Homo sapiens: one gene and its partner. The protein of the gene in region 2 interacts with the protein of the main gene of each other region in a biochemical or structural test. Each region holds a gene or a part of one and is shown on either strand. Other genes may lie near its edges.

The links. Proteins that work in one complex are often made in the same cells at the same time.
Region 1: the proteins of ITGA2B (region 2) and CLNS1A form a complex in vitro, tested with the Homo sapiens proteins (one study listed by BioGRID).

What each region holds. Positions count from the first base shown.
Region 1 is NC_000011.10:77,634,778-77,641,863, forward strand, and holds the start of CLNS1A (methylosome subunit pICln), read right to left. Parts: upstream 3,018-7,086; 5' UTR 2,938-3,017; coding exon 2,813-2,937; intron 1-2,812. UniProt on the Homo sapiens protein: Involved in both the assembly of spliceosomal snRNPs and the methylation of Sm proteins.
Region 2 is NC_000017.11:44,372,634-44,379,649, forward strand, and holds part of ITGA2B (integrin alpha-IIb preproprotein), read right to left. Parts: intron 6,078-7,016; coding exon 6,010-6,077; intron 5,877-6,009; coding exon 5,729-5,876; intron 5,158-5,728; coding exon 5,065-5,157; intron 4,456-5,064; coding exon 4,376-4,455; intron 3,756-4,375; coding exon 3,675-3,755; intron 3,552-3,674; coding exon 3,452-3,551; intron 3,353-3,451; coding exon 3,200-3,352; intron 3,084-3,199; coding exon 2,958-3,083; intron 2,479-2,957; coding exon 2,365-2,478; intron 2,128-2,364; coding exon 2,026-2,127; intron 1,838-2,025; coding exon 1,721-1,837; intron 1-1,720. UniProt on the Homo sapiens protein: Integrin alpha-IIb/beta-3 is a receptor for fibronectin, fibrinogen, plasminogen, prothrombin, thrombospondin and vitronectin. It recognizes the sequence R-G-D in a wide array of ligands.

The sequences.
Region 1 (7,086 bases), on a different chromosome or scaffold from region 2:
GAAAAGCTGAAACAAATAATGTTTAATTTTTTTCAGAGACAAGGTTTCACTCTGTCACCCAGGCTGGAATGCAGTAGTGTGATCACAGCTCACCGCAGCCTCAACTGCCCAGGCTCAAGTAATCCTCCCACCTCAGCTCCCCATAGTAACTGCCACTACAGGCACGTGCAACCACGACCGGCTAATTTTTGCAGTTTTTGTATTCTTTGCAGAGATGGGGTTTTGTCATGTTGTCCAGGCTGGTCAAGAACTCCTGGACTCAAGGGATCTGCTCACCTTGGCCTTCCGAAGTGCTGCGATTACAGGCGTAAGCCACCTTGCCCAGGCTAAGAATTTTTTAAAAGCTGATAAGAACTTAAAAAGAGTTATACTTCCTTAGTATGAGAATTGTATTGTGGTTATACAAGATAATGTCCCTGTTCTTCTGAACAGGAAGTGGAAAACGTCGACAATTCTCAAATGGCTCAGAAAAAAAAGAAAAACAGAGACATAAACATGGCAAAATGTTAACTAATAAATCTTTGTGAAGGGTGTATGGGTAGTAATAACACAACTTTTCTTTAGGTTTGAAATTTTTCTTTTTTTTTTTTTTTTGAGACAGTCTCACTCTGTCACCCAGGCTGGAATGCAATGGCATGATCTCGGCTTACTACAACCTCCGCCTCTCGGGTTCAAGCGATTCTCCTGCCTCAGCCTCCCAAGTAGCTGGGATTACAGGTGCACGCCACCACACCCGGATAATTTTTGTATTTTAGTAGAGACAGGGTTTCACATTGTTGGCCAGGCTGGTCTTGAACTCCTGTCATCAGGTGATCCACCCGCCTCAGCCTCCCAAAGTGCTGGTATTACAGGCGTGAGCCACCACACTGGATCTTAGGTTTGAAATTCTTCTAAATGCAAAAATCAATACAGGACTGTCCCTCAAAAGGAGTTATAATACTGAAAGAAGCGTCAACATACAGAAATGTCATGAATAAAAAAGGAATGCCTGGGAACTAGGAATGTATCTGTGCTCCATCTTCCACCACTTCAAAGAAACTGCTTTCCCCAATTATCAAAGATCTCCTTGTCAATACTCAATATATGCTCTTCACATTTTGTTTTGACTGCTCCTTCCTCCTTTCTCAAGTTTCTTCTTTCATGACCCACCCGTCGGCGTATCCCTAGGGTTCTACACTTGGTCCTCTTCTCTTCTGAGATATCTAATCCATTTCCATGAGTATACACTAACACTTTAACGACCTCCAAACATCTCTCTTTAATACCACTTTCCCAAGATACACATTCTTTTTTTATTTTTATTTTTTTTTTGAGACAGGGTCTCACTCTGTCATGCAGGCTGGAGTGCAGGGGCACAATCACGGCTCACCGCAGCCTCGACCTCCTGGGCTCAGGTGATCCTCCCACCTCAGTTTCCTGAGTAGCTAGGACTACAGGCCGCCACCATGCCTGGCTAATTTTTGTATTTTTTGTAGAGACTGGGTTTCGCCATGCTGCCCAGGCTGATCTCAAACTCCTGGGCTCAAGCGATCTGCCTGCCTCAGCCTCCCAAAGTGCTGGGATTACAGGTGTGAGCCACCGCGCCCGGCCCAACACGGTCATATGTACAACTACTCCACACATGTCCTGACCAAACTCATTATCTGCCTCTCACCTCAATCTTGCTTTTCCTCCCATCCATATGTCCTATCTCAGTTTCTGGCCTGAAGCCTAAACCTTGTTCAATGTCTAAATTTCCCTTTAAAGCAGAGGTTCTTTACAGTTTTTGTGCTCTGGATTCTGTAGTAGGCAGAATTTTGGCCCCACGACCTTCACTTTCTGGTGTCATGCGGGTGAATATGTTATATTACACAGCAAAAGGGACTTCACAAACGTAATTAAGGTTACCAGTCGACAGTAACATAGGGAGATTATCCTGGATTTTACAGGTGGTTCCAAAGTAATCACATGAGCTCTTAAAAGTAGAGAATTTTCTCTGGCTGTAGACAAGTGATGGAGCAAAAGGGGAAGCAACACATATCTGAAGGGCAGGAAAGATTCGATGTGTCATTACAGGCTTCAAAATAAAGAAAACTGCATGTCAAGGAAACAGGGACCTCTGTTCTACAACCACAATATTTACGGTAGATCTATCTGACTGTCAAAATACCAAAGTGCTCCACGTGGCCAAATAAAAGGGCAATTCCTTCCAGGACCCCAAAACGGGAGTCTGGTCCCTCTGCATATGACCCCTGTCTGTGTCGAGTTAAGGGTGTTCCTCTCCTTACTATACCTACAGAAGAAAATCTTTATTGTGTAACCAAACTTTAAAAGTCCTCCACAGTCGGCTCTGAAACTACGTATCCCAGAGAGGGGAACATCTCCTGCATCTGTTCATCCGGAAAGACAGGCACACTTCAGACCCTTAAAACCAGACCGTGCGTTAAGGGCAACGCACGCGCCAGACCTCCAGTAAATAGGCGAGTTAAAAAAAAAAAAAAAAGAAAATAAAAGAAAGAAAGAAAGAAAAGAAGAAGAAAGAAAGAGAGAAAGAGACAGAGAAAGAGAAAGAGGAAAAAAAGAAAAAAAAAAAAAAAAAGCACAATCCATAAGGGGAAATTCCGGCCGGAGAAAACAGAGAATGGAAGACTCCGGAGGAGTACTAGAAAAATCGAGCCTTCCACCCGCTACAGGTATCCCTGAGGCGTCGGGCACGAGACCCCGCTCCCAGCAGGCCTCCAGGCCGCCCCTTGCCCGGCTCCTTCGCACCGCCTGCTCCAGCAAGGAGGAGGGCGGCGCGCAGGAGGCCAGCGCTGGGGACCAGGAACCCTACCTCTCAGCGATGTAAAGGGTACCAGTGCCGAGGCCCTTCCCGTTCAGCACAGCCTCAGTGTCTGGCTGCTGCCGCAGGAGCCCCTCCGCTGGCCCAGGCGGCGGGAAACTTTTGAGGAAGCTCATAGCAGCAGAGTGCGGCAACACAGGCCCTGAGGGAGTTGGAGCACAGCAATGCGTGCACCACACCGCCCGCCCTGGAAGAGGCAGTCACCCCGGAAGAACAACTTAGTCTGCCCCGGAATCTGAACGCCGTCGACCATAGAGATGAGACATTCTAGGAAAAGCGGCGGAGGTCGGCTAAGAACGTGTGGAGTTTGACCGCGCAACACCCTTCCCCTTCTTCCTCGCCATTTCTGAGGCTTTGGGCTTCAATAACTGAGGGTTCTGTGGGAAGTCCCTCAGGATTGTCACAGTGAAACCACCACTGCAAAATTATAACTGAGACACTGAAAGCGATCTGACCTACCCAAATCCATGTTGTTTCTAACCTCCAAACTGTCCTTGTTCATTGCTGGATATAGGCTGAACTAACTTTGGGAGGAACTTAGTTTACAGTTTGAAGTTTAAAACAAAGATGATGACAGCCTTTTCCCAAAACAAACTTCCTTCTTGCCTGGGGACTGGACTGCCTTTGTAGGACTAACAAATCAGCCACAAGATTAGAAATTATGGTTTAGATTAGAAATTACAGCTGCAAGCTACAAGATTCTGACCCTCCCTAAACTGCACCTAAGATCGGTGCTTGAGATATGTTGCAGACCCTGCACTTGATGGATCAGCTGGCACCACCAGATGGATAAACTGGCTATGTGATCTTGTGCCCCCTCCCCACCAACCCAGGAACTGACTCAGCGCAAGAGGACAGCTTCAACTCCCTGTGACTTCATCTCCCACCCAACCAATCAGCACTCTTGACTCACTGGCCTTCCCCAACCTGCCAAATTATCCTTAAAAACTTGGATCCCTGGCTGGGCGCGGTGGCTCACGCCTGTAATCCCAGCACTTTGGGAGGCCGAGGCGGGCGGATCACGAGGTCAGGAGATCAAGACCATTCTGGCTAACATGGTGAAACCCCGTCTCTACTAAAAATACAAAAAAATTAGCCGGGTGTGGTGGCAGGCGCCTGTGGTCCCAGCTACTGGGGAGGCTGAGGCAGGAGAATGGCGTGAACCCGGGAGGCAGAGCTTGCAGTGAGCCGAGATAGCGCCACTGCACTCCAGCCTGGGCGACAGAGCGAGACCCCGTCTCAAAAAAAAAAAAAAAACAACAAAAAACAAAAAACAAAAAAACTTTGATCCCTGAATGCTCTGGGAAACTGATTTGAGTAAAAATAAAACTCTAGGCCGGGTGCAGTGGCTCATGCTTGTAATCCCAGCACTTTGGGAGGCCGAGGCGGGCAGATCACGAGGACAGGAGATCGAGACCAGCCTGGCTAACACGGTGAAACCCCGTCTCGACTAAAAATACAAAAACAAAATTAGCCGGGCGTGGTGGCAGGTGCCTGTAGTCCCAGCTACTCGGGAGGTTGAAGCGGGAGAATGGCGTGAACCCGAGAGGCGGAGCTTGCAGTGAGCCGAGGTCGCGCCTTGGCACTCCAGCCTGGGCGACAGAGAGAGACTCCGTCTCAAAACAACAACAACAAACTCTAGTCTCCTGCACAGCAGCTCTGCGTGAATTACTGTTTTTCTGTTACAATTTCCATCTTGATAAATCAGCTCTGTCTAGGCAACAGGCAAGGTGAACCCATTGGGCCATTACAGCAGCAACCCTGTTACAACCCTGTAACCCAGTTACATACAACCCTGTTGTAACTGCCCAATGGGATCACCGTGCCTGCTGCTTAGACAGAGCCTATTTATCAAGACAGGGGAATTGCAATAGAGAAAGAGTAATACACCGGTGGCAATGGCTCACGCCTGTAATCCCAGCATTTTGGAGGCCGAGGCGGACGGATCACCTGACGTCGGGAATTCGAGACCAGCCTGACCAACATGGAGAAACCCCGTCTCTACTAAAAATGCACAATTAGCCTGGCGTGGTGGCGCATGCCTGTAATCCTAGCTACTCGGGAGGCTGAGGCAGGAGAATTGCTTGAACCCGGGAGGCGGAGGTTGCGGTGAGCCGAGATCACGCCATTGCACTCCAGCCTGGGCAACAAGAGCGAAACACTGTCTCAAAAAAAAAAAAAAAAAAAAAAAAAAACAAAGAGAGAAAGACTAATACATGGAGTCCCTTGCCAAAGGATGCATAGGACATAGAGACCACTCATCTGGAGCTCAGAAGTCTCCCAACTCGGTTATGATGTTCTGATCTGGCCACCCCGTCCCCATCTCCTGGGACTGTTCACATCTCAGGTATACACAACCAAGTAGCATACATCAATCTAGGTCCTTATACTGCCCTAGTGCACAAGCCACGTCCCCACGTGTCAGGTGGGCAGATAAGTATAAAGGGTTAATAAGGGCAGGGTGAAGAGCTAGCTACATCAGTAAGGAGCTGGGGCACTGACTGGAAAGGAATTAATCCACCAAAATTGCAATTGATGTTTTGTTTCTTCGTTAGGCACTAAAGAGTATAGTAGTAATAGGAAGAAAGACTTCCAAAATCGTCATAATGGTAGCTAAAGTTAACGAGTGTTCTGTGCCAGGCTCTCTTCCAGGCACTTTACCTGCACTTTGCTTGCATCATCTCTTCATTTACTCTTTGCAAGTTTGTGAAGTTACTATTATTGACCCACTTTACAGATGAGAGACCTGAGGCATTAAACTCAAGAGCAATAATTTGGCCATGAGAGAACAAGTGAAATTCAAGTAAATCCCCTTGTAAACTCAGTATGGTAATACCTTTGCAGTAGGACTGCTGAGGCTGGAGGACAGGATGTGTGGGGTAGTTTTGTTTCTATCTTCTCAACAGTTAGGCTGGCATTAAATTTTTAACGTGTTTGAGATCAGCCTGGGCAACATAGTGAGACCCCCATCTCTACCAAAAAATAAATAAATAAATTAGCCCAGCATGGTGGCATGTGCCTGTGATCCCAGCTACTTGGGAGGCTGAGGTGAGAGGATCATTTGAGCCTCAGAAGTGGAGGCTACAGTGAGCCATGATTGTGCCACTGCACTCTAGCCTGGGTGGCAGAGCAAGACTCCATCTCAAAAAAATTTTTTTTTCCTTTAACGTAGACTAGTTTGTTGGTAGTGTTAAAGTGAATTAAATATGGGTTGAGGAGGGCTCTGTACTTCTATATTTGAGTCCTTGTGGATGCACTGTAACCTAAGTTAATAGGGAGATAACTTTGAAAACCTAACTTAGGAGTATTCACCTGTAACAATAGTTGAGCCTTGGCCAATCCCAGCAGCCATACTTCAACAACTCATACACTGTTGAGTGTTCAAACTGTGTTCAAATAAGGCAGATGCCAACCTGTAACCAACCCAGCTGTTTCTGTACCTCACTTCCAATTCTTGTACATCACTTCTCTTGTTTTTTGTCTATAAATTTGTTGTGACCATGAGGCATCCCTGGAATCTCTCTGAATCTGCTGTGATTCTGGGGGCTGCTTGATTTGCAAATTATTCATTGCTCAATTAAACTCCTTGAAATTTAATTCTGCTGAAGTTTTTCTTTTAACAGATGGTGTCAGAAGTGGGATCTGAAGTAGAGGTTGTAACGATCCCCAGGAGTGCTGAGTGAACAAGCAAGTTACCTGCAGAATCCACTGTGTCCTTTGATCTGTCACAGCAGCTGGGGTTCCTGGTAAGTTCTCTCTCAGATTTCAGAGCTCCACAGATTAGTGTTTTGAGCTCTCTGAGTTCCTTTTTTTTTTTTTTCTGAGACAGAGTTTTGCTCTTGTTGCCCAGGCTGAGTGCAATGGCGAGATCTTGGCTCACTGTGACCTCCGCCTCCTGGGTTCAAGCAATTCTCCTGCCCCCTCCTGAGTAGCTGGGATTACAGGCATGCACCACCACACCCAGCTAATTTTTTATATTTTTAGTAGAGATGGGGTTTCTCCATGTTGGCCAGGCTGGTCTGGAGCTCCTGACCTTCAAGTGATCCACCCACCTCAGCCTCCCAAAGTGCTGGGATTACAGGCATAAGCCACCACACCCGGCCAGCTCTCTGAGTTTCTTTGAGCAAATTTCTTTTCCAAACTAGGTTTAGAAGTTGCGACAGAAACTAGACTGGGTCCAGGATCAAATTTGATCTGGTAATTAACTGGCTTGAATCCAGTTAGAGGCCTTTTATATCTGACTAGGCCAGAAAGAAACTGGTAGT
Region 2 (7,016 bases):
TTTTTCTTTTTTTTAGAGGGAGTCTCACTCTGTCACCCAGGCTGTAGTGTAGTGGCTCGATCTCGGCTCAGTGCAGCCTCCACCTCCCGGGTTCAAACAATTCTCATGCCTCAGCCTCCCGAGTAGCTGGGTTTACAGGTGTGTGCCACCACGCCCAGCTAATTTTTAGTAGAGACAGGGTTTCACCCTGTTGGCCGGGCTGGTCTCAAACTCCTGACCTCAGGTGATCTGCCTGCCTCAGCCTCCCATTGTGTTGGGATTACAGGCATAAGCCACTGTGCCCGGCCTCTGAATTTTTCTTTTTTATTTTATTTTTAGAGACAGGGTCTTTCTGTTGTCACCCAGGCAATCCTCTCACCTCTTAGCCTCCCAAGTAGCTGGGACTACAGGTGTGGACTACCACACCTGACTAATTTTTTTTAAAAAACTTTTTTGTAGAGATGGAGTCTCACTATGCTGTCCCAAACTCCTGGCCTCAAGTGATCCACCGCGCCTGGTCCCCACCTGGAATTTTTCTTTTCTTTTCTTTTGAGATGAAATCTCACCCAGGCTGGAGTGCAGTGGCACAATCTTGGCTCACTGCAACCTTCACCTCCCGGGTTCAAGTGATTCTCCTGCCTCAGCCTCCCGAGTAGCTGGAAGTACAGGTGCCTGCCACCACGCCTGGCTAATTTTTGTATTTTTAGTAGAGATGGGGTTTCACCATGTTTGTCAGGCTGGTCTCGAACTCCTGACCTCATGAACCGCCCACCTCGGCCTCCCAAAGTGCTGGGATTACCGGTGTGAGCCACCACGCCCAGCCTGGAATTTTTCTTATACTGAAGTTTGTGTCTGCATGACTCGAGCATATGATGATATGTATTTGATTATTGTGGGTCTAGTGCGTGGTTTTCCCTAAAAGCACCATGTCTTCCCTTCAGTGTGCTTGAGACTCCTCCAGGTGCAGAGGAGCGAGTGACCCTCCAGGGCCACATAGGAAGGGAGGAATAGGGTCTAGACCAATCCTTGGGCCTCTTGCCTCACTCAAGGGGAAGGGCAGGGCTAGGAAGAAGTGCATCTTGTCCTTGAGACCAGCCAGGAATTCCTGAAGGCAGGACTTACACCCTCTATACCCTCTATATCCTCTGAATCTTTTTGGTGGCAGGGGTGTCTAAAGGCCTCAGAATTTCAGGTGCTATCCTTTCCAGTGGTATGTGTCTGGAAGGGTTCCCAGGAGAATGACATTTTTGTGTTTGTTTTGCCTTTTTTGCTCTACTAGAGAAAGACATTCTATTTTTTTCTTTTTTTTTTGAGATGGAGGCTCGCTCTGTTGCCCAAGCTGGAGTGCAGTGGTGTGATCTCGGCTCACTGCAACCTCCGCCTCCTGGGTTCATGCAATTCTACTGCCTCAGCCTCCCGAGTAGCTGAGATTACAGGCATGTGTCAACACGCCCGGCTAATTTTGGTATTTTTAGTAGAGATGGGGTTTCACCATGTTGGCCAGGCTGGTCTCGAACTCTTGACCTCAGGTGATCTAAACGCTTTGGCCTCCCAAAGTGCTGGGATTACAGGTGTGAGCCACCCCACTGGACCGAGAATGACATTCTAATAGTGGAGACATAGACCCCTGGTCCCTGGATTACCCACTTGGGTGGGCCACCATCTCTCCTTGACTCCCTGTGAGGCAGGGCAGAGCCAAGCCTGTGCCCCGCTGGGGACTCCACCGTCCTTCACACCTCACCTTCCACATGGCCAGGACCAGGATGGTGAGCAGCAGCAGGCCACCCAGCACACCCACCAGCACCCACCAGATTGGAATGGCCCTCTCCTCCAAGGCCCGGAGCAGCTGTGTCCACACCTGGGGGCAAACCCACGTGTCTCCTCAGTCACCTTGACACCTGCCTTTCACAAAGACTCAAACCTCAGGCTGGTGACCTCCAGCCATGCCACCCACCCGTACCACCCCTCAGACTTTTCTGGCTGGGCACTGACTGGGGGACAATGGGTCCTGCAGGACTGGTCTCTGCTCCATCCCCCCACACTCACCTGAGCTTCCCCTCGGGGCAGGCTGAGCGGGGGCACCGCATAGGGGAGGGAGGACACGTTGAACCATGCGTGCGACTGCAGCACAAACTGATCCAGAGGCCTCTGGACAGGTTGGGGTTGAAAGCCGTTTACACCCACAAGAGGCCTATTGGTTGCAGGAGTCCAGGTCCCACACCCCCGGCGGGGAAGCCCTGCCTCTGACCTAATCCCACTGCAATCCCCCAAAGTAAACCTTGCCTTCCCTCTCTTCCTGCCCTCCCACACCAAACCCCGCCCCTCCCAGAGCAAAGTGGTCCCCGCCCAGAAGGCCCGGCCCCGCCCCACCACGGCCCACCCCACCTGGTAGAGGCTGGGCAGCCACAGGAAGGCCAGCACCGTGACCATGGCCCGCTGCCCGCGCGCCATCTCCTGCAGGTCACACTGCACCACAGTACAGGGCGCCGAGTCGCAGCTCTGAGGGGAAGCATCGTCAGTCCCCAGCCCGTCCCGGCCCATCACCCCATCATCCCCCACCCCCTTACCCCCAGGACCCAACGCAGAAGGGGCCGGGGGTTCAGGAAGCGGTGGCCTTCCCATCAGGAAGGGCCTTGGATCCAAGCTTCGGATGCTGTCTTTCCACGGGCTTGCTCACATAGTCCCAGAGATGCAGGGAGGGTCATCCCCCAGCGCACAATGCTCAGATCTATGATAACCTTGCTTTGGCATTGTTTTATGCTCCTTAACGTACTGGGAAGCTTTTAAAAAGTGCAAGTGTCTTTCAGCTCACCCCAGACACAAGCCAGCATGCTCCTCCATGTTCACTTGAAGTGCTCCCAGGGACCAAGCGTGGCCCACAGAGGCCCACAGCACACCCGGACCCCTCTCCCTCCTCCCATCCCCTCTGCCCCGTGGGTCCCGGGGAGGCCGGGCCAGAGACCAGAGAGCCTGCTCACTACGAGAACTGGATCCTGAAGCCTCGAGGGCTGCTCGGGCTCTGGCAGGAAGATCTGTCTGCGATCCCGCTTGTGATGGGCCGGGTGAATGGGGGAGGGGCTGGGGATGGGCAGCCCCCAGTCCACCTGGGGGGGCAAAGGAGTGGTCAGGCCCAGGTCTCCCCCGAACCCCAGCCCACAGAGGTGCCCCGGTGGTTGGTCTGGGGCCGCCTTCCCAGGTCTTTCTTCCACCCAGCTCTTACCTTGAGAGGGTTGACAGGAGGCTGTGGGAAGCACTGAAGGCCCCCCTGGGGCTGTATATCCAGGATGTAGAGCAGGTCGGAGGGCTGGGACTGTCCCGGAAGGTGGATGCTGAGGTGAAGACCATTCACAGTCCCAGGGCCATTGTTGTGGAGCTGAAGGGGTGGTGGTGGCAGGGTGTGGGGAGCTTAGCGCCTCACCCGGAGTTCTGAGGACCCGCTCACCCCAGCCAGGGACGCGAGGCTCCCCAATACCTCATAGGTGTGCTCCACTTTGGGTCCCCAGCTGTCCAAGCTGTTCTGCTCCCTCTCACCTTCTTCTGCTGCCACCACCAGGGAGGCTGGAAAGGAGTTCCTGCAGGTGCCCAAGACCCCCAGAGAGAGTGTGATGCCCTGATTGGCCTGTGAGGTTTCCCCAGCGCCCCCTGGAGTTTAGAGCCCTGAATGCCATCTCCCTTCTCCACCCCTGGCCTCTCACCCTCGCAGCTCCACTTGGGCCTCTGCCCGGACCGGCACGTCCAGCAGCACAATCTTGCTGTTTGGATTCTGGCTGTTCTTGCTAGAGGGGAGGGGATGAGGAGAAACAGGGCCAGGGACACCAGCCCAGTGACTTTCTGGGGGTGAGGCCAGAATTTTAGAGAGTTCAGAGAGAGCTAATTATACAAAGAGCATGCCACACTGAAGTTAGACCTGGGAAAGAACTTCCTCTAGGGCTCCAAGACTCAGACATAAATCTCTGAGGAAGAAAGGGAACCAGGCTTCTTCAAAGACCTTTTTTTTTTTCTTTTGAGATAGAATCTCGCACTGTCGCCCAGGCTGGAAGGCTGGAGTGCAGTGGCCCAATCTCAGCTCACTGCAACCTCCACCTCCCAGGTTCGGTTCAAGCTATTCTCCTGCCTCAGCCTCCCGAGTAGCTGGGATTGTAGGTGCGCACCACCATGCCCAGCTAATTTTTATATTTTTAGTAGAGATGGGGTTTCACCATGTTGGCCAGGCTGGTCTCCAACTCCTGACCTCCAGTGATCCTTCTGCCTTGGCCTCGCAACGTGCTGGGATTACAGGTGTGAGCCACTGCGCCTGGCCTCGAAAGACCCTTCTGTATGGAAGGGACCTGAGGGGCTCTGCACGGGGGTCAGACGGGGGAAGGGTGGTGGGTAGGCACGCTCGCCAGGTCAGTACCTCCGTATCTGCAGCTGGAAGGACACAGACTCCCCAGCCTCTTCCAGATTCCCCACGCTCACCAACATCGCGATTCCTATCTGGGAGATGAGGAGGGCCAAGGTCACTGCCCAAGTGCCCCACTTAGGACAGCCCTGCCCTGAATGTGGCCTCCAGTCTTCACCCTCCAAGATCACCACTATTCTTTTTCTTTTTTTTTTTTTCCGAGACGGAGTCTCACTCTGTCACCCAGGCTGGAGTGCAGTGGCATGATCTCGGCTCACTGCAACCTCCACCTCCCAGGTTCAAGTGATTTTTCTGCCTCAACCTCCCGAGTAGCTCTGACTATAGGCGTGCGCCACCATGCCCGGGTAATTTTTGTATTTTTAGTAGAGACGGGGTTTTGCTATGTTGGCCAGGCTGGTCTTGAACTCCTGACCTCGTGATCCACCCGTCTCGGCCTCCCAGAGTGCTGGGATTACAGGCGTGAGCCACCGCACCAGGCCACCATTATTATTTCTATTTTACCTGGAAGCCCACTGGGTAAAGGGGCTCAGAGAGGGAAAGTCACTCACCCAAGGACATGTGGCAAGGGAGTGTGAGGACCAAGATTCTGGCCCAGAACTATGTGGCTCTAAAACCTCACCCCTAAAATCTGGTTATTCATGAGCCCCTGGTGGAGACCCGGTACCACGACCCAGCAGCCTCACCTGGGCGTTCTTCTTCATGGGGTTGCCCAGCTCACACAGCACCACCCTGGTCTCATTCTCCTTCTTCTGATTACAGATGAGTCTCTCAAAGCCCTTCAGGAAGGCAGTTCCAAGAAAGAAATTACAGAGCATCATATATATATATTTAAGCTCCCTTGGAAGGTCTGGAAAGATTTGTGTGCCAAGGTAGGGAGGGGGGGGTTTCTTGGGGTGGGGTCTCAAGGGACTGTCACATGCTAGTGTGTGTATTGCTGTAGCACTACTACTTTTTAGGCATTTTCATTTTGGAAATAAAAAACACAAAACATTAGAGTATGACCCCCATTATTATAAACTATATTAACAACATAAAAAATAAATATATACTTATGTGAGTGTGAGTCAATATTGAAAAAAAGACTGGAAGGAAATCCACCAAATGTTAACAGAGGTTCCTGTTAACATTTGGTTCCTAAACCTTTTTTGTTTTTCTGGTTTTTGTAATAGAGTTTTGGAATTCTGTGCCATTAGCAAGTATTCCTCCTCCAAATTAAAAAAAAAATAAAAAATTACATCTTTGACAGCAAAGCAGAAGAGAAGAGGGACTCTCAGGGAGGGAGATGAGAGAGCCAAGGCTCCAGTGCCTCCCAGGTCCCGGGTACTGTTCCCAGGGTGGGGGCCATACCTCGACATTGCTTAGGGCCCGCATGTAGTGGGCGCCCTGGGGCAGGTGCACGGCCAGCTCTGCTTCATAGGCCCCCTCGCCCTCGTTGGCTGCGTCCATCTGCAGCTCCAGGACATTATCTGCCCCAACTAGGAGCGGGGAGCCCGTCCTGTGGGGAAAGAGGAGTGAAGCCAGGGAGCCTGGGTCTGGGCCCAGGATGTGGGAAAAGAGGGGACTAAGGTGTGGAGCAGGTATGATAGGCAGAAAGGGCCAGGGTCGGGCAGAATGGGAGGCCTCCTCACACGCTGGCAGTGAGCTGAAGCTGGGGCACACATACGTCATCTTCCCCACAGTCCAGGACGATTCGTGTCTAGAGGGGCACATTGGGGTGTGCGGGTAAGTTGGGGATGTGTGAGGTTTAGGGATTACATCAGGGTTAGGAAAACAGTGGGCTTGGGGTTCACATAGGGGCTTAGGGAGTAAGAAGATCTGAGGACGAAAAGGAGTTTGTAGATGGTATCGGGGCTCGGGTTTATTTGGAGGTTTGGGACAATGTCAGGGTTTGTCAATTTACATCAGAGCTTAGGGGATACTGGGATTTTCAGGTGTTTATTTTATTTTTGGAGACGGAGTCTCGCTCTGTCGTCCAGGCTGGAGTGCAGTGGCACTATCTCGGCTCACTGCAAGCTCCGCCCCCCGGGGTTCACGCCATTCTCCTGCCTCAGCCTCCCAAGTAGCTGGGACTACAGGTACCCGCCACCACGCCCAGCTAATTTTTTTTTTTTTTTTGTATTTTTAGTAGACGGGGTTTCACTGTGTTAGCCAGGATGGTCTTGATCTCCTGACCTCGTGATCCACCCGCCTTGGCCTCCCAAAGTGCTGGGATTACAGGCGTGAGCCACTGCGCCTGGCTTTTTTTTTTTTTTTTGAGACAGAGTCTTGCTCTGTCACCCAGGCTGGAGTGCTGTGGCACACTCTTGGCTCACTGCAACCTCTGCCTCCTGGGTTCAAGTGATTCTCCTGCTTCAGCCTCCCGAGTAGCTGGAATTACAGGCATGCGTCACCACACCCGGCTAATTTTTTTTGTATTTTTAGTAGAGATGGGTTTTCACCATGTTGGCCAGGTTGGTCTCTAACTCCTGACCTCAGGCAATCTGCCTGCCTCGGTCTCCCAAAGTGCTGGGATTACAGGTGTGAGCCACCATGACTGGCTGGATTTTGAGGTTTTCATTAGGGTTTGGAATGACATCAAGGTTTTGGGGTTCACATTGTGACTTGGCACTAACCCTAATCCTGATTTGCTATCAGG